Regions from separate parts of the Homo sapiens genome. Here region 2 is linked to region 1. Evidence: fine-mapped expression QTL. Tissue or cell type: whole blood. Region 1 holds a variant in brackets; the other region holds the start of a gene. All regions are shown on one strand. Distances are between the middles of the regions.

What was found. PIP is the estimated chance that this variant, and not a neighbour inherited with it, causes the effect.
Region 2: DAPP1 starts here. The variant in region 1 is fine-mapped to the expression of DAPP1 in whole blood (TOPMed, PIP 0.98).

The regions. Positions count from the first base shown.
Region 1 is chr4:99,853,999-99,865,086 of GRCh38, reverse strand. DAPP1 (dual adaptor of phosphotyrosine and 3-phosphoinositides 1) reads right to left here. Exons shown (of 9, transcript NM_014395.3): 5 at 3,462-3,509; 6 at 2,015-2,077; 7 at 1,232-1,317. Among named protein-coding and RNA genes, the nearest start is that of LAMTOR3, 35 kb to the left of the region's middle. The variant G/T (reference allele first, on the strand shown) is at 4,201.
Region 2 is chr4:99,809,902-99,820,989 of GRCh38, reverse strand. DAPP1 (dual adaptor of phosphotyrosine and 3-phosphoinositides 1) reads right to left here and starts at 4,163. Exons shown (of 9, transcript NM_014395.3): 1 at 3,976-4,163. The coding sequence starts at 4,076.

The DNA.
Region 1 (11,088 bases):
GTGGTGGGGAGGGAGTGATACAGTGCATATACTCGAAAACTGGTTTCTGTCATTGTCATTGTTTGGTACTCCCTATGGGAGACATTATTAACTGTCTATTAATACAGATAATTATCCCTTTCTTTTGCTAACAGAACCCCAAGCAATAAATCCTAATTTGTTTAAGCCAATTATGATCAGCTGCTGGGGATGGCCATGGCACCCGGTCTCATAGGGGAGTTTCTGGAGAAACATTGGTTTTCCTGATAAAAAGGGACAGACACGGGTAATATCATCCCTACATCTTTCTTTGTACTTTGTTGAAAATATGAGACCTACAGGTGTAGTAGACACTCAAATCCTGAAGTAGCCAGCATGAGAAAAGGCCAGGAGAACAGTAGAGACCCTGGACCTGACCTTGTCACCATAGCTGCTTGCCTCCTGATTTTTGGATATATGAGAAAAATAAAGCTCTGCTAGCTCACAGGGCATGTCTATGCAAATTTTAAAAAGACACCCATTCTCAGTTGATATTATAGAATTAACATTAATTTCTTCAGTTGTAATAATGATACTGTAGTCCTATATGTGATATTTTATTCTTAAGAGACACATACTAAAGTCTTTAGGAATAAAGTGCCATGATGTCTGCAACTTACTTTCAATTGGTTCAGGAAAAAAAAAAAGTGGATAGACTAGGATAAAGCAAATATGGTAAGATATATTAATAACTGCTATGGAGGGTATGTAAACGTATGTCTTTCAACTTGTGTATGCTTGAAAAACTTTAAAATAAAAGGTAGTGGGAAATAAGACATTCCTTTCTCAAGACTCTTCTCCCAGTTAGAACATTTTTATAACATACTGATTATGTTAGAACAAAATATTTTTGTGCCATTTGCCAGAAATTGTCATAACAATACAAATCACCTATCATTAGAGTCAACAAAGTTATAAATAAAATGAGGGAGAAAGCCTCAAAGAAATTAAATTGTCTAAGATGTGAATGGCATCCTCTATGTGAGTCATACTTCTCCAGTACGCAACATAAGCTGAGCTGACCTGCCTGTTTGTTTAAGCTACTTTAAATGAGGTGTTATGTCACACTCAGCTGAAAACACTCCTTACATGCAGGCATGCCCCTCATATCTGATCTTTGTAGACATTAAGATATACAGCTTTCTATTCCTTAGCCAAAATAAGTGTCTGGCAAGAAGACATTAAAAAACGTTTTCTTTATAAAACAACTTACCAAAAACAGTTTACCCTTTCTTGTGAATAATCGAATTGTACAGCTGAACATTCTGTTAGGTCTAGGATCCGAATTGGTTCTGGTGACTAAATAAAATAAAAAGCAACGTATGTCACCATTAAAAAAAAAAAAAAAAACAGACAAATCTGTCCCTCACTTATTCCCCTCACAAGTTTTCCACTATGTGCAATTGTCATATTTCCTTTCACTAACAGGACTGACAATAGAAAAGCCCTACCAAGGGAAGTCCTTGGTTTTGGAATGAGCCTTTCATAAAACTGGGCATTAAGTTACTACCTTTATCAACTTACTGATGAAGATGGATTTTAACACATGGAAGAGAGGTATATTTTTCTCTCATTTTTTAAAACTTCTACTTTCTTAGAAATGTTATATAAGAAAAGTGAGAAAAAATAATTTTAAATTGGCTTAATGAAATGGGCATGGGAAATGGAGAAACTGTATTTTTAATAAAGGGACAAATTGCTGCAAAGAGACAGTTAATAAATTGTGGCAAGAGAATAATTACATTGTCCTAAACAGAGGGAATTACGTGCCCTGGGGAACTATGGTTTAGCCAATCCAAGAAAGCAATTTCTGGGACATACATCTCATCTTTGCAAAATAACTCTGCTCATTTCAGGAATCAAGAATTCATATCTCCAATCATTTATTAGGTATTTCAGGTGGATATAAAAATAATTTCAGAGATTTTAAAGACCTAAGTTTCTTTCATCTAGAGAATTGATTTTTAAAGGAAAAATATATTATCATGTTTCTCACCATCTGGTCTTTGAAGTATTTCAGTTCATTCCTGTGCAGAGTAAACCATCTTGTTTTCCAGGTCTGAGAAAAACACACACACACACAAACACACAGACACACAAAGTTTTGAATACAGGAATGTAATATTTGAACCAGATGATTTACTTTCATTTTAAAAGTATCTAAAAAATTAAATACTATAACCCTGAAAAAATTCTTTTGTGTCATTTCTGAGAAAAAAGTTTCAAAATATCTATAAAAATTAAAATAATTTCATGCATTAAGCTCAAAAAATTCTTTTGTGTCATTTCTGAGAAAAAAGTTTCAAAATATCTATAAAAATTAATTTCATGCATTAAGCTCATAATGAAGGCAGATATATCATTAGTATATTTTTAAATACAAAAAGAATTAGTCTATCATAAATATTCAATGTGACTTATAACAAACCACTACAATTTCCATTTTATTAACTCTATAATAAAGATAAATATTGTTCTTTGAGTACCTAATATGGACGATATACTATCATTGGAGGCTTTATATATTATATCCAATCCTCACACAACAATGCCAGTATTATTATTCTTGTCTTACAAACAACAAAACTGAGGTTTAGGAACCCTGACTCACATGATATTCTAAACCTTGCCTAAGAACTCCAAGGTATCAGTGGTAAAAACCATCATTGCCCGCTGTTACCTTCTTATATACAAACAGCATCCTACTCTATCCTGGGTGTCAATGTGCCCAGTTAAAAGAAGTAACAGAGGATTTAAACATAAATATGCTATGAATATGAATACTCTCTGTCCTCAGGGAGCATTCGATCTAGAAGGGACACAAATAATGAAATTATTTAGGCTAATTCCAAGCATGTCAGTGTCTGTGAGAGGTTAAATACCGTGACTCTTAAAACGAGAAGGAGCAGACACATTCCATGAAGGTCTTCTTGGCACATTGAGATGAAACAAAGGAATTCTAAAGATACAGTCTCATAAATGGGGAACATTTGGATACTCTGAACTTGTAAGAGCTTAAATTGTGTTTTTCTTTGGATTTTATAACATAGTTTCAGTAGCATCAGTGATGTTTTTGGCCTATCCTTAAAGAAACATTTTATACAATTTTGACTTCTTCCTTGTTTTAGAAGAAGAACGAAAGATGTTCTAGAGTAAACTTGCTATCTTCATCCTCAATCATTCCATTATGAGGACTATGTTTTATTGACTTTTAACTGCAGGCTACACCTATGCAGGGCTTTGTCAAAGAACAGTCAAGTCATTTTCCAGAATTTTGACTAATGAGCCATAAAAATGAACTCTTGAGTCAGGTGAATATTACAAATGGGTTAAAATGAGCAGGCAATTATGCTTCCAAGAAAAACTATCAAGATGAGAATTGAGTCTACATGACGTGTTCTCTTTTTTCTGTGGCTGGCATGAGCAAAACCACACTTCCTTACCTTGACCAGGCCTCCCTGTTTGGTGAGGTAACCTTCTTTGGTGCCCAGCTGAAAAAGAAAAGCACTGAGTGAAGACCAGAACTGTCACAACAGGACGTTTGTCCTTCCTTTCATGTCCTATTTTTAAATGAAGAATGTTTGCTTTTGATCTTTAAATTACTGTCTATCATTTTTCACCTAGGCACTTGAAAAGCTTCCATGTGTTGTGAGAGATTGTTTTCAGACTGGATCTACTGGCATCATTCTGTAGCTCCTAACTCCAGTTAGCAATTTGCAAACAATAAACGACATCATTTCACTTATAAAAGTCTGTGTTTGTCAAGGTGTGTCATGTGAAATCCAGCTGTTTGGATTGTTACAGGGTTATTAGCACATAAACACGCACACATCTACTGTCAATACGTTTGGGAGACTGGATTAAGAAAACTAAAAGGATGTTTTTACTTCAGGGCTTCCCAGAGTCTGTATTATGCTAATATACTTTGTAAATTTTTAAGAGGGAACCTTAGAAATAGCATTTTTACTATTTATTTTATCACATAATCCTCCTCCCCACCCCCACACTCTCTTGAGATCCATGTTCCAAAAAACAGACTGTCAGGAGCGTAGATTTATTTACACCTGATTTACCCAAAATGAATCTGAAATAAGAATGAGCCAGTTCTTTTAACTCATGTTGTCATTAATTCAAACGTAAAAATAATAGCACACACTTAGCTAACACCTACGAAATATAAGG[G/T]TGGAGAATTGTGTGAACAGAAATTTGCATAAGACAAGTAGCTTAACATCAAGAAATTTATCATTTCATAAATTCCACAAGAAATTCAATTCGTGGTAGAATATTTTGTTCAAATGTGATGTCATCATATGTCTTAGTAAGAAACAAAATTAACAAAAATTGGGAAGTGATTTGGTTGACACCAAGGTTCTTTCTATGGTAATTTCCAGAATATTTTTTTCCAAGGTGAATTTTCCCAACCAAATAAAAAGAGGAACAACCATCTCTACCACAATAAAAAGAGTTAAAGCAGGAAATAAGCAAACACTTCTTTTAAAATCTTATGATATAAAAGTAAGGATAAACTAACCAAATGTTCACTTAAATAATATTAATCAATATTGGTGAATTTGATATCTCATAATTGGTGTGATTTATTTTAACATTAAATAAATTGAATTGACTCAGTTGAATTCAGGTGTTATAGGAATGGCAAAAAGTAATTATTTTGGGCTGTTGCAGGTTAAAATCTGTAGAGGCAAAATAACTAGGAGTAAATTGTTGTATAAAAGATCCTGATAGAATTATTTACTAAAATCAAGCTAGGGAATAATCCCATCTTACCTCCACCCAAACAATGTACTATAAGTGTAGTATTCTTCTAAGGTTTTGATAGGTAAGCCAAAGGCTGCATGGGAAAGCAATGAGACTATTAATTTTATTCAGGGTCTCCAGATGTAAGAAAGTAAATAATTATAGAGCACATTTATCTTTAAAAATCTATGAACTGTAACAGAAAAGCTGTTTATAAGAGCCCCCATTGGGGTACCATCTAAATGTTCAAAAACAAAGGACTGTCCTTCCTGCCATCCTACTACCTACTTGCCTGCCAGCCTTAAATGAAGTCAGTAGCCAACACAGTTCAGGTGAAGCAAGGCAGGCATTGATGTGTGTGTGGAGGGCTTTCAAGCACCTTAGTACAGGGTGGTGGAGCCCAAGTAGGGCACAGGGAGCCTCTGTGTGGACACTGGCAGTGACAGTGGCAGCAGCAGCTGTGTGCGAGGCATTGAAGCCTGGCAGGGTGTGGAGGGCTTCTGCCTGAAGGGGTGGAGGTGGCAGCTACTGCACAGTTTCAGAGCCAAGTTGGGCTAGGTGGACATCTGTAGTGAGGGTGGGAGCAGCAGTGGCCTGGAACTGAGCATTGAAGCATGACTGGGTGGTTGGAGTGTCGGGGTAAGGGTTGAGTAGTAGAAACAGCAATGGGAGATTGCTTATATTCAATTGATCACCACATAAGTGTACTGAGGATGATAAGATCCATATTTTCTCACTGTGGGAGAAGGGAAAACACTAGAATGAACTTTGTGGTATTGGAAGCATTGTTGTGAACTCATGGATCGATGAATGAATCGACAGATAAATACAGATGTAAAAGTATATATGTGTACATATGTATATACATACATATTTTCCCAGCTCTGCTCACTGAGTGGGCTGGGAGAGTGACATCCTGATAACAATAAGCACATAGTACCTAGATGTCGATTTCTAGAGTACTATTCTGTGGAAAAAGAGCAGAGTTTCTTGGAGAAATAGCTGGTTCTAGAGCTGGGTACAAAGAAAGAACAAGATAAGTCTGGATCATCTTGCTATTCAGAAAGTAAGAAAGTTCTTAAAAGAATTTTGAGGCCAGGCCAGGCACGGAGGCTCACAACTATAATCCCAGCACTTTGGGAGGCTGAAGCATGAGCATTGCTTGCACCCAGGAGTTCGATACCAGCCTGGTTAAAATGGTGAAACCTTGACTCTACAAAAAAAAATAAAAAAATGAAAATACAAATATTAGCCAGGAGTGGTGGTACACACCTGTAGTCCCTGCTACTCAGGAGGCTGAGGAGGGAGAGTCACCTGAACCCAGGAGGTCGAGGCTTCATGAGCCGTGATCACACCACTGCACTCCAGCTTGGGAGACAGAGTGACGGAGTGACACACTGTCTCCAAAAAAAAAAAATTTTTTTTGAGGTCATATGAACACAGACACCACTTGAAAGGGCTCTTTCCCCGACTGGCCAAATCAGGGAAATTTTGAAGGATCAAAATAAATAATGATAGTCATGATTATAACCATTTGATATAAAAATGATTGAAAATTTTGAAGAATAAAAAGCTTTTCCTTACAGTAGAATGACAACCAATGAATGTAAAAAGGAATAAGAAAATCAGAGAGTCATCGTTTGGTAACAATCATAGTAATGATTAAAACAGCCAAGACACATCAGTAAATGCTAAAATTGGCAAGTAAAAATTTAATAAGTAACAGAATATTCTTATAGTCTCAAATAACCTCACCCCAAACATTTTTTAATAACAAAGGGAATATGGTGACTTTAGAGTGAAGAAACCTGGCAGACACCACTTAAGTAATCAAACACACCATTATGAGACAGATTGCAATTGTGTTCCATCTGAGAAGACACAGTGAGAAGCACAAACAAAGCATCACTTTTGTGGTATTTGTAGCCAACATGAAAAAACCTGTATCTAATCATGATTCAATATCATATAAACCAAAGTTGGGAAACTATTTACAAAATAACTGGTCTTTAATTTCAGATGTGTCAAAGTCACGAAATTAAGGAAAAACTGAGGAAGTGTTCCAAAGTGAAGAATCTTCCAGAGACAGGACAGATAAGTGCAACTTGTGCTTGAGGACTGGATCTTTTACTCTGACGGAACTTACTGAGAAAACTAGTGAAGCTTGAATGAGATCTGTGGATGAAACAGTGGCACAGCCTCAATGTTAATTTTCTAGTTTGGAAGGCTCTATCTGGTCACGCAGGCAAATGCCCTTATTTTTGGAAATACACACTGAAATATTCAGGGTGATGGGGCATCATGTAGGCAATTTACTATCAAACGACTTGGGGAAAACCAAGTTCTGTGTACTATTCTAGCAATTATTCTGTAACTTTGACATTATTTCAAATAAAAAAGCATGTTAAAACATAATAGTGGATTAACTGAATAAATTGATATACTCAAATAATGGAATATTATGGAATTTGTTTAATGGTGTTCCAGAAAACTAAGTAATTACATGAAAAAAATTTTAAATATATAGTTAATTAAACAAGAATATTACAACTCTACAATGAAGAGCTCATTATTTTATGTGTGTGTGTGTGTGTGTGTGTGTGTGTGTGTGTATATACATACATATACTTTTTTTTTTCAAGTAAAAGACTGAAAGGATAAGCAACAAAATGTTAAACCTGAGAAGAGTTTCAAAAACAAAATACTGGAAAAGGGCAACGTGCAAGGAAAGTATCCAAGAAGAGGAACTATAAAATGTGTCAAAGATTACGGAATAAAGACAGAAAGATGTTGCCAAAGCTAAGGAAACAGAATTTTTAGAAGGAGGGAGTTGTTAAAAACGTCAAATACCACAAAAGGGAAGCTAAGGAAACTAACATTTTAGATAGGACCTATTATGTCAGGAACTTGAACTATATTAATCTCAATCTCTACCAAGACAACTAATTGGTATTTCTCATTTAACATGTCCAAAATAGAGCTCTTCTTTCTCATCCCCTCAACCCACCCCTCCTGCAGAGTTAGCCTTCTCAGTAAATAGCAGGGCTTCTCTGCCATGACTCTGCTACTCTTTCTTTCGTGTATCACATTCAATCCATCTGCAAGAATTTTTTTAAACAAGCTCAGAAGGTAAAGAATTCTCATGTTATGTACAAAAGGTACTACTGAGATTTTGGGCAAGATAATTCTCTACCACTCTTTGAAGAATAGTTAGCCCCTGATCACTGTTGGGAAATAATCTCCACGGGTCTCTTGTCAAGGTTCCAAATGTCTTATGAGCAAGGCATTAACAGTTCTTTGCTGCAGACTGATATTTAAAGTATGCTTATACAAGCAGCCTTGGAATAAAGAAATATTTCCCTTCAGAACAAAAGACATGTCTACTGATCATTAGAAAAGATTTGGGTTCCCAAGGCTCAGGGTTCCTCTCCTGTAGGGCAACCCATTGTGGATATCACCTGGCCCTTTCAATATTGCCCTTTGGGAACTTCGGCTCAGCACAGGGAATTAGCATAAATACTGATATCCTGGCTGTTGCTCTTCCTGTGAATAGCAAACTATTTTTCAACGCTTACCCAGAAGTCTTGTGTCATCCATCAGCATACATGAAACTGCAGCAGGCTAACTTGTTAGCTTGCAAGCAGAGTAAAGTCAGACTCTTCATGGCTCTTGACACTCACGCATGATAGTAGTGCCGCAAAGCAATGCACCAACAGAAACACTCATATTTCTAAATGCTCAGCTGGGAGGTGCTGCTCTTTGAAAACTCCATTGCCTTATGTGATCTGACCCCTCATTACCTCAATAATCTCACCTTCTACAACTTTTCCTCTAGCTCACTTCATCCCGTAATTCTGACCTTCCTAGCCTTTGAAGCACCTCAATTTTGTTTCCACTCCAGGGCCTTTGTACTGTTTCCTCTGCCTGCAGCACTCTTTCCACATCTTGACATGAGTCACTCCTTCCCTTCAGTGAAATCTCTTACTAATGGTTCCTCCTCACAGAGGCCTCCCTTGCTTCCCTCTTCTCCCCTTATCCTACTTTTTCTTTTCATGATGTATTACTGTCTGGTATCAGATTACTGCATTGATTATTGTCTGTGATCTTCACTAGAATGTGAGCTCAGTGAGGGGAGGAGGACCTTTGTCAAAATTACTGCCAAACTCCCAGTGCTTAAAACAGTTCTGAGTGTATTGGAAGCACTTTAAAAAAAAAAAGTTTGTTTAATAAATGAATTAATTAAATTTAATCCTATCATGGGAACTCAATGCTATGTTGTTTATAAGACATAAATAGCAATTTCCCCAAATGCAGTTACTAAAAGATGTTAAACAGTTATACACAGTCATCTGCATTTCTGGGCAGTGGGGCATCTTTCACTTTCGCTTCAAACAAGAAGTTCTTTTAATTCTCTTCCTCCACTGCTAGACCTTGAGCAAGAACTACACCCCAAAAAGAAAATGCAGAAGTTTGAAAACCCTCAGGGCTCTCAGGCTGGAGATGGAGGTGCAGCATCATGTAGCCATTTGGGGTAGCAAATGAAGGCTTAGAACTTGTGTTCAATAAGGGACAAGAGCATTCTGATCAGACCAGAACTCTTTCCCCAGCAGCTATACTGGTCCAGTCACCAATGATTCCCCAATGAGAAGTAATGAGAAACATTTCAGATCCTCTAGGAAACCTTTACATTTTTTTTGTCCATAGTGATGTACAATCAACTTCATAAGCTTGTCATTATATAGTGTGAGTTCAAGTCATTGTCAACCAATCACTCACCACTATTTTAAAAACTCCATTTTAAAAGAGGTGAATCCATCTGATAGCTGGAGTGAGAAAAGAAGGTAAGTAACAAGGTTTCCAGAATGTGCTTTAAAGAGGTTTATTTCTGCATAAGGATACTATATCTTCTGCTCACACCAATCTCACAAATTAGGTATTATCTGCATTTTATTGCCGATAAAGAACACGCTTAATAGGACATGGTTTGTTTGACCTTGAGTGGAGATCTTTAGGGGAAGTGTAGCAGAGGAGAATGTGAAGTTAAACTAACAGGGCAAATGAAAGAGATGTTGAAGTGACTGGTGATCTATATTAAGGGTAAGGGTGGGTAAAGAGGAAATTATGAAGGGACTGGACAACTGGAAAACAAGAATTGGTTGCAGAGTAGATCTTGATTTGTTCTTTGGTCTTTTCTGCCTTTGGACTATTTATTGTCTTGCACTCCTAAATTTCTCAAGTTCTGAGTTCTTGATGCCTTCTCCCCCACTTCTAACAAAGCCAAAATAACTTTCTCAGTCAATTTTCAGGATTTTTATTTCTGAGGAGATGTAGCACTGCAATGAATATGTAAGATGTGCCATGAGCCAGGCTAGGCTGTAAAGCTGCAAGGACAAGCAATGATTCATGTACTTAGATGTTTCTGGCTGGTGGGGAGGGCAGAGAGATGTGAAGGTAATTAGCCCACAGCATGGTAATTTTAGAATAAAGGCAAACAGAGGGTGCTCTGGAGCACAGAAGAGGAGCATTGTAAAAGAAGCTAGTGGGGGTGAAGAAAGGCTTCCTGGAAGATAATGATCCGTGATACCAGTCTTGAGGGATGAGTAGATAGCAATGGTGTTGGCAGCATTTCAGATGTAGGGAGAGGAGAAAGAGCACAATGTTGAGAGAGACAGGTTTCACAGTGTGAGTGTGGGAGTAGCATGAGATGAAGACAGAGAGGCAAGCAGGGTCCAGGTGGGCCATGAACACAAAAGGCATCACCAAAGGATGTAAAGCAGAGGTCATGTGGCAAGCCTTCTTTTTAAGAAAGATCTCTCTGGTCAAGGGTAGAGAAAAGTACTGCAGATATAGAAAGTTACACTTATTTTAATATAATTTGTAGCTGAATATCTTCAAGTGATTATTTTTCAAGTGTCATGATTACTATCCAGAATTAGTTCTTGATATTTATTTGGGTATTATCTTCTTTATCATCTGCCCAAATAGAGGTTTCTTATACCAGGAGTATTCAGCAAACAAGGAAGAGACAACAAATAGAAGGGCCTTCAGAATAATGAAGGGAAAAGGGTGTTGGAGAGGAACCTCTGCAGAGTCACAGTTCACAGAACAAACATAAATGGACTCTTGGACAAACAATGAGTGCTCCAATTGCACTGAAATTGAACAATGGCTCACGTTGCAAAGAAGCACAAGTGTTTTCTGTCTGTAAACTTCAGTCAGTAAAGGAAAAAAAGCTAGAAAAAATAATACCCTGAGTTTTTATAGTAAAGGTGGAGAATATTTGTCTTCCATAGATAGTTGAAATATTTAAAAAAA
Region 2 (11,088 bases), 44 kb after region 1:
TATCATTTATTCCGTGGGTCAGCAAACCACCAGCTGAGGGTTAATTCCTGTCAGACACCTGTTTTAGTATGGACTGGGAGCCAAGAATGGCTGTACATTTTGAAATGCTTGAGGGAAATAGAAAAATATTCATAAAAATTATATGAAATTCACATTTCAGTGTATAAATAACGTTTTGTTTGAACACCATCACGGTCATTTGTTTCTGTGTTCTCTGGTAGTTTTTGCACAACAGCAGATGTGAGTAGTTGAGGTAGAGACTGTAAGGCCTGCAAAGCCTAAAACATTCGTTACCCGGCCCTTTATAAAAAAAAGGTTTGCTGCTCCATGGTCTACTCTAAACTTCTCTTATATGTGACTAATTAGTTATCAATTTATTTAAATATTCAGAGCTTGGAATCTAGTTCTTTGGCACTGGCCAATCCAGCCAAACACTGGCACTTTCTTATACAACTTTCGATTTGAGAAAGTATTTAAAAAAGAGAACGTTTATTATGTTTCTCACTTGGAGTTACAACTGACTAGATCATTTGAATATTTAATTTTAAAGTATGCTAAAACACTTTCATTTTGTTATTTCTTTTGTGTTTATACATATATATAGCTATATGTAGAAATAGTATAGTAACCTTTGTTAAAGCCAAAGAATTGCTGGAATTTTCAGTAATTTAACTAGCTATTCTTTACCAGTTTGTTACTTAGGTGATATCTCCAGTATTTGTTACTTGTTTTATTTTGCCATATTTTCATTTTGCAAGCAGCAAACAGCCTGACCCATCTCCTCGTTCATGGTCCACCTCCTTCCTCTCCCCTGATTCTCCACACCCTCACTTCTTGCCCTCCCCACACCTCTCTTCCCCCTAAGCCCATACCCTCCCCTGAGAAGTGTAAGCGAAGCTGAGCAACAATTTAAGATGGTTTTATTTCTCCTTTGCTTCTGGACACATTAATGTATTTTAGATGAAAGAAAATTAATGATTTTAGGCTGACACTCTATAAATGAGACATGGAAAAGCACTGTGTTGCTTGATTTAGGTATTTTAGAAAATAATAAACCTGTACTCTGAGCAAGTTGTATATGTCCTGGAAAGGCAAGTGATGGATTTGCTGCAGTTCAGGGCTCAATTTACAGGATTTACATATTCCAGAGCCTGAAAAAAACAGAGGCCCAAGAACAAAGACTTCTGCTATTTCTGTAATTTAACCACTAACTTATCTGTTTATGTCTATCAAAAACATAAACGTAAGGATTTATCTAACTACTCAAATAACCTCTTAAAAATAATTGAAAAATTAAGTCATTAAAACCAGCTACCTTTTATCTATCCATTACATTAAATCATTTTGTTTTTAAGGAGGTCTTTGGAAACTAAATTAATCAGAAGGTTTGGTAGAGATTCTATCTCGCCAGTGGTTAAAGGTTCAAAGAAAAAGTCATTATAATGTTCGAGTTATGTTCAGTATTCTGGCAGAGGCAACAAGTCATTGTCAAGAGTTCTCAAATTGTTATCTATAAAAAATGTATCAGTGAGGTGCTGCAGGAGCAAGTACTGGCACAAGTTGATTATTAAATATTCAATTCGATGATGTTAAATTGTTGGCAGCTTGAAATTGTCTATAGTGGGAGTATTTATACCAGGGAATTAGGCAAATTCTTGAAATCAGGGCTTTCTCCACACCCCAACTCTTCCCAGCTGTTTTTCCAGCACACTGTTGAGTATGCTTAAATAAGCCATACATCTGAGGGTTCTTTTTGGGAGAACAGAAATGTCCTAAAACTGATTTATGGTGATGGTTGTATCACTCTGTAAAGTTAGTCAAAAGTATTGAATTGTACACTTGAAACGGGTATATTTTATGATATGTAAAATAACCTCAATAAAGTTGCTAATCGAAATGCCCCTAAACCAACAAACAAAATATCAACATTTATTAGTAATTTTAAGATTCAAGTACACACCCAACAGACTTAAAATGAAAAACAAGACCACATTTACCTAATGCATTTGGTAGATACATATTCTATGCAGTGATCATCAACCTAGGGTCTCACTTTGGAATTACTTGGAGAGTTTGACAAGAAAACACCCATCCCCAGAGATACTGAAATCATTTGTCAAGTCTGTGGTTTGGGTGTCAAGATGTTCCAGAGCACAGCCAAGGTCAAGAACCAGGACTGTAGAGCAGTTTTCCCAGATAACTGCAGGTTGCCCATTGCTATAGAAATCATCCTCATGTTTATTAATTGTTCACGCCTTCTGAAATAGGGAAATCTGGCCATGAATGTACCCTTTTTTTTTTGCAGGGAAGTGGTGTGACTCAGTTTTGTATTCAATGTCTATTCTTTGCACATGGAGGAAAGACACAGTCCTATTCCACCCGTGGGTTTCACCTGTAGTTGCTTCTTGCTGTTGACATCATGGTGGGGCACAGAGACAGCATCTAATTCATCTTTGTCATCTAAGTGTGTTCCCACAGTACTCAACCATAGACTCTGGGTTCTAGGATTGTTTGTTTAACTAAAGGACCAGAATTGAATATATTCCTCTATCTCCTCCTTTGGGGTTTTCTATTACAGTGGGCTGGGAATACAGTTAACAGAACATGTAAAGCATTGTAACTTAATAGTTCAATAAGACACTGAGGGCCACAGTTCAGCTTTAGCTTTTGGACTTGGTGACACCTGTGCTGGATGCTCACAGAAGGGCCTTTTACCTCTTCTGTTTGGGGATTCAATCTAGAGGGATAGAGAGATTCTAGAGCTCTGGCTTCCTAATAAGGGGAGTTTTCTTTAATGAAAATTCCAGGTGTTTTATCTGATTTGCCAAATGAAAGTAGAGTTCAATTCCGAGACCTCAGTTTTATAATCTAAAGACAGGAATTATTAATAAACTTTTACAGTAATACAACATAAAAAGATACAATCTCTGCAGCCTTAACACAGAGAGATTTCAACTCTATTTTGGTTTTTCTTTGGTTTCGGACATAGCCTGTGGTAGGTTGGATGCCCAGCTTTGCTATGTAATTGATGTGTGACTAGCAAGCAAGTTATTCAAACCTGTTTGGTACTTGTTTTCATCCTTTGTAAGATGAAGATGACAACAGCTCCTATGTCATTGGATTGCTATGAAGAGTTAGAGCTATTTGTCCAGGCAGAAGGTAAAGGTTTTGCCTCTCCTCATGCACAGGTGTCAAAGCCACCTTCATTGGGATATTCCCAGTGCATTAGGCAGTTTCTCTGGGAAATCCCCAATTCCTCTCTTGTGTAATACTTGTTTCTTATTAAATACCCGGATGAGTTGTCATCTGGGTCCCTTCTTAAAGACAGAGCTCCAATGACTCCACCTACCTATGCTTACCTGTTTGAAGCAGAAATTTTATCCTCTTCCTGGATTGTTGGTACTGAAAGGCTCAAAGTTGGCTCTCTGGACATACATACGATATCAAATCTCACAAATGCAGTATCAGGAGAAAGAAATATACAAGCGAGACTGTTGCAGGAACTTCCTCATTCTCTGTCTTTTGAAAAAGTCCCTCTCCCTTACAGTAGGGTAAGCTTTCTGTTTATCTTACCAGAAACACAGTCCTTTTACTGTCCCTGGGTCAGTGCTAGAAACTCTTGAACAGCGCATTTATTCATAAACCAGAGCAACATCAAGGAAGCCAGGCAACATCACCTCTATATCCCAATTCTGTCCCTCTTCTCAAAGAATGTCCAACATTTGATTTTTTTCCCTATTTTCTCAACCAACTTGTTTTCACATCTAGAAAAATAATGCCTGCTTTTCCAATGGAATTAGCCCCAGACAAGAAGATACTTAACAGATACAAATGAATAAAGTGGAAAAAAATAAATGGTTGAGGTGGCAGAGGGCAACAAGGCACTGAAGATAGTCATTAATCAAAGCATGCAGGTGGGAGTGCGGAGTCAATGTCCACCCACTAGGTACTTTGAAAGGAGATCTGCTGCCTTACCCCAAGTCCTGGAGCAGCTCAGCCTCTCCATCGGATCTGCTCCACAGATCTGAGGGATCCTGGGTGCTCATCTTCCCTTCTAGAAGTTCTGCTCTGCCCATTCGCGCCCTTCACAGAGGTAGAGAGAGAGACACAACTGGGCTGCTCCTGACACCTTCTCGCTCTGTGAGACAGCAGCCTGCTATGGCTCTGAGTCTCCAAGGCAAGGAAGTGAAACTTGGTTACTTACTCCTCCCACCAACACCACCACCCTGGCCTGGAGGCACTGGCAGGAGTGTTCTGTCAGTCAGGAAGTATGCAAACTTAGGTAGCTACCTCTGAGGACACCCACACTACATCACGCAACAGGCGGTTGCTATCAAAGGAAATGAAGAGGCAACCACCCCACCTGGGATTGGACAACAGTGCAAACTGCTTGTGTGAGGCCAAACCCTAGCTTCTCCCTAATGCTATCAGCCTCTGGTTTGTAGTGGAGGATGCGTGCACTCTTTTACCCCATCTTCTTTCTGTCTTACACACCAACACAGGGAACACTGAGGAAGCTTCTCTATCAGGAACACCTTTAGAGTGGATAGAAAAAGCAGAAGCAAACCACAAATTCGACCCTGAAGTTTGATGTTTTAGCACTTTTGCAATATTTCTGCTTGTTTACCCAGACCTTCTAATATATCCTCAATGCTCCGAATAGGGATGATTCAGAGACAATTATTGTTTCCTCCACAGAAAAAGAATTAGGAGAGGAGAAGGTAGGAAAAAGTTACAAGGGGCCATTCTGGTGCCCACCTAATGGGGCATATTAGAACTCCTGGAGTCTTTTTTTTTTTTTTTTTTTGAGACAGTCTCGCTCTGTCACTCAGTCTGGAGTGTAATGGCATGACCTGAGATCACTGCAACCTCCACCTCCCAGGGTTCAAGTGATTCTTCTGCCTCAGCCTCCCAAGTAGCTGGTATTACAGGCACCCGTCATCATGCTCTGCTAATTTTTGTGTTTTTATAGAGACAGGGTTTCACCCTCAGGTGATACACTCACCTCGGCCTCCCAAAGTGCTGGGCTTATAGGCATGAGCCACTGCACCTGGCCTGAACTCCTAGAGTCTTTGAGTGCCACTTCCTTCATGGGCTTACTCACACCTGCATGGCTTTGTGCCCAGATTCATATGTAGAGCAGGATTCTATCTGCCTGGAATGCTAAAGGTAAATTGCAGTGACTGAATCCTTGGGAAGTGGAACAAAGTGCAGTATCAAATGAGTCAAGGACATATGTTGCTTCCTGCCTTTTCTATGTACCTACAGGTCTCTCTCTCCCTCTCCCTTTCTCTCTCTCTCTTCCTATCTCTACTCCCTGACTCATTCAGCACTCACCACAGTGCTCTGTAACTTGTTCTCACAGTGTGGCCTGAGGACTAAACAGCACAGCAGAACTGTTCCTAAAGGACTAGATGATTGCAAAAGGCTGCTGTGCAATGGTTCTATCCTTCATCTTCCTCCCTATTACCACTGTTCACCCGGGATCGGTGAGACCCGGGTAACACTGGTTGCCAGTGGGAAGTTCCTGAGTGTCTGGAGGCAGTCTGCTGAAGACTAAGCTCTGATAATACATATATAACTGACTAAATGAGCACTTAAATTCTTTTGGCTACAGTTTGCTCACAGAGAAGGACAGGGCCCACTTGAACAGAGAGGCCAGTGCAGGCCAGGGAGATACTGAATATGCATACAGCAGTGACAGGGGAACAGCCTGGGCACTAGAGTTCCTGTTCCCTCTCTAGAGCCCTTTATTTGGTGTTTTAGTATCTATTTCATTCCCATTTTTAGCAAATTCTGGTTGTTCTTTTTCTTAACTTTTTTGGAAGTACAAGTAGCAGAATTTTCTAAGATCGTCCTGCTTTTCTGGCTGAATCTTCCTGCCTTTTGCCCTTCCTCATGTTGCTGTCCTGTCTGTTGCCCTCTCCTTTGATGTCATTGTCCCACTTTGTCATTTACTCAATTTTTCACAGTATCCCTACCACCCCGCCCACTCCACTAACTACACACTTAGTTTTGCAGTGGTAACAGCTGCAGGAGGCTTGCTAGATAGTTTCAACAAAATGCTGGAGCCCATCCCTCCCGGGACATCTATTGCTGTGTAACTGAAAGGGGATTTAGAATCTTGTTCTGGGCCGGGCGTGGTGGCTCATGCCTATAACCCCAGCACTTTGGGAGGCCGAGGCGGGTGGATCACCAGGTCAGGAGATCGAGACCATCCTGGCTAATACAGTGAAACCCTGTCTCTACTAAAAATTCAAAAAATTAGCCGGGCATGGTGGTGGACGCCTGTAATCCCAGCCACTCAGGAAGCTGAGACAGGAGAATGGCGTGAACCCGGAAGGCAGAGCTTGCAGTGAGCTGAGATCATGCCACTACATTCCAGCCTGGGCAGCAGAGTGAGACTTCGTCTCAAAAAAAACAAAAAACAAAAAACAAAAAACCTTGTTTTGGAACCAAGGCCAGCATCATGTCTGTTCTTATCCTTCAGTGCCTGTGGCATGCTAGTTGTATATTTAACAGGTATATTGAGGTACAATTTGTATATCATAATGTTCATTTTCCTTAGGTGTACAATAATTTTGAGTAAATTTGCAGAGTCGTGCAACCATCATTGCAATACAATTTTAGAATGGTTTTTATCACCCCAGAAGATCCTTTGTATCTGTAACAGTCTAAATACCACTTCTGTTTTTAGCTCTACCTGAAATTATATAGAATATTTGCTTACTTGTGGCAAATTCTCTTGATGGATAGATAGTAGATAGATGATAGATAAATAGATAGATAGATAGATAGATAGATAGATACATACATACATACATACATACATACACACATACATCTCCCAACCCACATGCTCTTCTGCAATGTGACCTTGCTGCTCCCTGTCAAGAGGCAGCACCTAACTCCCCTCCTTTGAATCTGGCCTGGCCTCTGTGATTCACTTGTGACCAATAAAATGTGGTGGAAGTGACACTGGATCACTTCTGAGGCTAGGTCAGAAGAAGCCTTGCAGTTTCTATTGTGGTCTCTTGGAAGGCTCACTCTCCAAATGTTACTTTCAGGGGTTCCCCTTAGGAACATAATTGTTATGCCTAGAAGCCCAAGCCACGTGGAATGCTTCATGTGTGTGCTCCAGTCAACAGTCCCAGATAATCCCAGCTTGAATCATTCTAGTCCAGGTGCCAGACTTGATTGAAGAAGCCCCCAGATGATTCCAGCCTCCAGCCATTCAAATCACTCTCTCCTAGTGGTTTGCATATTGCCAGCTGAGGCCCCAGACATCAAAGAGGAGAGACAAACCATGCCCTGTTTGAATTTTGGATCTAAAGAATACATGCACTTAATAAGATGTTTGCTATTTGATGCCATGAAGCTTGGGATGGTTTGTTAGGCAGTGATATGGTTTGGCTCCTTGTCCCCACCCAAATCTCATCTTGTAGCTCCCATAATTCCCACATGTTGTGGGAAGGACCCAGTGTGAAATAACTGAATCATGGGGTGGGTCTTTCCCCTGCTGTTCTCATGATAGTGAATAGGTCTCATGAGATCTGATGGTTTTAAAAATGGGAGTTTCCCTGAACAAGCGCTCTCTTTGCCTGCTGCCATCCACATAAGATGACTTGCTCCTCCATGCCTTCTGCCATGATTGTGAGGCCTCCCCAGCCATATGGAACTGTAATTCCAATAAACCTCTTTCTTTTGTAAATTGCCCAGTCTTGGGTATGTCTTTATCAGCAGCATGAAAATGGACTAATACAGCCAGCGATAGATAACTGAAACACTTGCCTATCATCTGGGTCAATGCCTAGAATGTGAGCTCCCAGAGGCAGGGACTTCCAGGGTCTTGATCACCTTATATCTTTGATGGTTACTTTTACGTGTCAACTCGGCCAGACCACGGGTTGCCCAGATAGTTGGTCAGATGTTATTCGGGGTGTTTCTATAAGAGTGTTTTTGAGTGAATTAACATTTAAATGGTAGGCTCTGAGTAAAGCAGATTGCTCTCTATAACGTGGGTGGACCTCATCCAACCAGTTGAAAATTTGAACAGAACCAAAAGACCAGCCTCCCCCGAGCAACATAATTTTCCAGTAGACTGCATTTGGTCTTCATTTGCAGCATCAACTCTTCCTGGTACTATAGTAGACAGCCTTTGGACTTGAACTAGTTCTCCAGCCTGTGAGCCCACCCTGCAGATCTTGGACTTACCAGCCTACATAATTATGTGAGGAAATTCCTTATTTTATACAACGCACACACACACACACACACACACACACACACACACACACACACCCTCTCTCTCTCTCACACACACACACTCTCACACTCCACATATATACATACTATTGGTTTTGTTTCTCTGGAGAACCTTCACTGATATAGTATCCATAGCCCCTAAAATGGTGGTTCTCAATTGGGTCCTCATTTTTGAGGTGGTTTTCATTGTTAGTTGTCACAACCTGGGGAGCCTACTGGCATTTAGTGTGCAGTGATGCTGAATATCCTAGTGTGCAGTACAGCCCCCACAATAAAGAATTACCTGGCTAAAAGTATCAAAAGGGCTACCTGGTCTACCTCAAGCACATTTTTTTCTCACTTTAAGAGCAACCTAAAAACCATAATACAGTAAATCCACTGAAGGTAACTATGCAAAGTCACCTACCTAACGAGAAAGCTAAAGTGAAATAAAAAGCCAGCCCTTCCCAGAAATCACTGGGGAGGATTTCAGGGAGAAAGGGCTAAGACCCTACCTTTTTTACAAGCAACCTGAGGTCAAGTGAGCACAAGTCAAGTAACATTAATGGGACATTGAGGTCACTCTTCATTTGTGTCTACCATATACCCTGTGCCCAAGCCCATTGCCGGCCTGACTTGGATAATCAGTTCTACATGGTTCAGGAAGCCAGGCTAATTGGTTCACTGGTGACATTTCCCAGTAGCTGGTGTTGAAACAATTAAAGCTTTGCCCTCAAAGAAGAAATACAGCCACTCTCAGTGGTTATAAAAGAACAGCTCCCCCTGTTGGTGCAGGCTATATTCATCTTTTCAAATGAAAAAATAACTAACATATTTGACTGGATCACAATTTAGAAACATTCAATAGGCTCCTGGAGGTCTAGAAAGAGAAAGACATGACCAATAACAGCAAACTTAACCAGGATCCATAAAAATACATTTCTTTAGATTATGAGTGTTCATAATCATTTTCATTTGTATATCATGAACATTATGTTATTGACACAGAGCAGGTATTGCTATTCTTGTTATTTTTTAATAGATAAGAAAATTGGAGCTCAGAAATGTTAAGAAAATTGTCAGAAATTAGCAGCACCAGGAAGAGAATTTATGTGCATCAGTCACTATCCAGTTAAGAAAAGAGAAGCCACTGTAGACATTTAGCTGCCACTGCTGGTCTGTGGGACCAGAAGGACACAACTCTGTTGATGCAGCTGAAAACTGGGACTGAGGCTTTTGGAGCATGCAGCTGCCCACCATTGCTGAAGGCTGCTCATGGTGCTGAAAGCACTGCCTAAGGAAGAAAAAAACAAAAACAAAAACAAAAAAACCCCAGATTTCTACCCTTCTCCAGTCTTCCTGTTAGCAAATTCTTTCTGGAAGACAGCTGGCAAGGGAATTAGTGAAATGTAGTTTGTGGGCTTCCAGTCCCCTATGATACCAGGCGAGGAGAGGAGGTCAGAAGTGGAGCTGAAGCCAATTGATGAATAACTAGCACATAACATTTTCACTCAAGGTTCTTTTCACTCTGCCTCATTCTCTCCTGTGTTCATCAGGGTATGCTAAATTGCTACTTCAGAAAGACCCAAAATTTAACACTTCAACACAGAAGTGAATTTCTTATTCATATGACTGTGAATAACGTGGGTCACTCTCCCCACCCCATCCCTAAGGGTCCCGGGTCACTCTCCCCACCCCATCCCTAGGGGTCCTGGGTCACTGTCACCTCATCCCATTTCTAGGGGTACTGAGTCACTCTCCCCACCCCATCCCTAGGGTCCTGGGTCACTCTCCCCACCCCATCCCTAGGGGTCCTGGGTTACTCTTCCCTTACCCCATTTCTAGGGGTCCTGGGTCACTCTCCCCACCTTCATCACTAGGGGTCCTGGGTCACTCTCCCCACCCCATCCCACAGACTGGGTAGCTTACACAAAACAGAAATTTATTTCTCACATTTCTGGAGTCTAGGAAGTCCAAGATCAAGGCACCAGCAGATGTGGGGTCTGATAATGCCTGATTCATGGTTCATAGATGCTGGCTGTCTTCTTGCTGTGTCTTCACATGGTGGGAGGGGCTGGGAAGTTCCCTGGGACCTCTTTTATAAGACATGAATCCCATTAATGAGAATTATGACCTTATGACTTAATCACCTCCCAAAGGCTCCACCTCCAAATACCATCACATTGGGGATTAGGCTTTTACATAGGAATTTTGTGGGACACAAATGTTCAGTTTTTGGTAGGGAGTGAGGAATGGTTTGCCTCTGCTGAGAGGTATATTCTGTCATTGACATTGGTTAGAATTGCTGGTTTCTGGTGATAATAAAGAGCAGAATGACTTCTCATTGGTTTTATCATTATCATTGTTTCTTTATTCCCTTTCTTTCTTTTTTTTTTTTTTTTTTTTTTTTTTAGAGAGTGTCTGGCTCTGTCACCCAGGCTGGAGTGCAGTGGCATGATCTCACCTCACTGCAATGTCTGCCTCCTCAGCTCAAGCCATCCTCCCACCTCAGCCTCCTGAATAGCTGGGACTACAAGCATGCACCACTACACCAGGCTTATTTTTGTATTTTTTGGTAGAGACACGATTTTGCCATTCTTTCCAGGCTGGTCTTGAATTCCTGGGTTGAAGCAATCCTCCCGCCTCAGGCTCCCAAAGTGTTAGGTTTATAGGCATGAGCCACAACGCACAGCCTGTTTCTTTATTGTTATTGACTATACCAGGGATTAAAGTGCTCCCAAGCACCCCCTCACCTTTGTATGTCACTGGTAAAAAAGATTCTTATATTAGAAGGAAAGTTATTCTAAGTCACTTTTAAGTTCCCTTTTAACTTTGAAATAATGT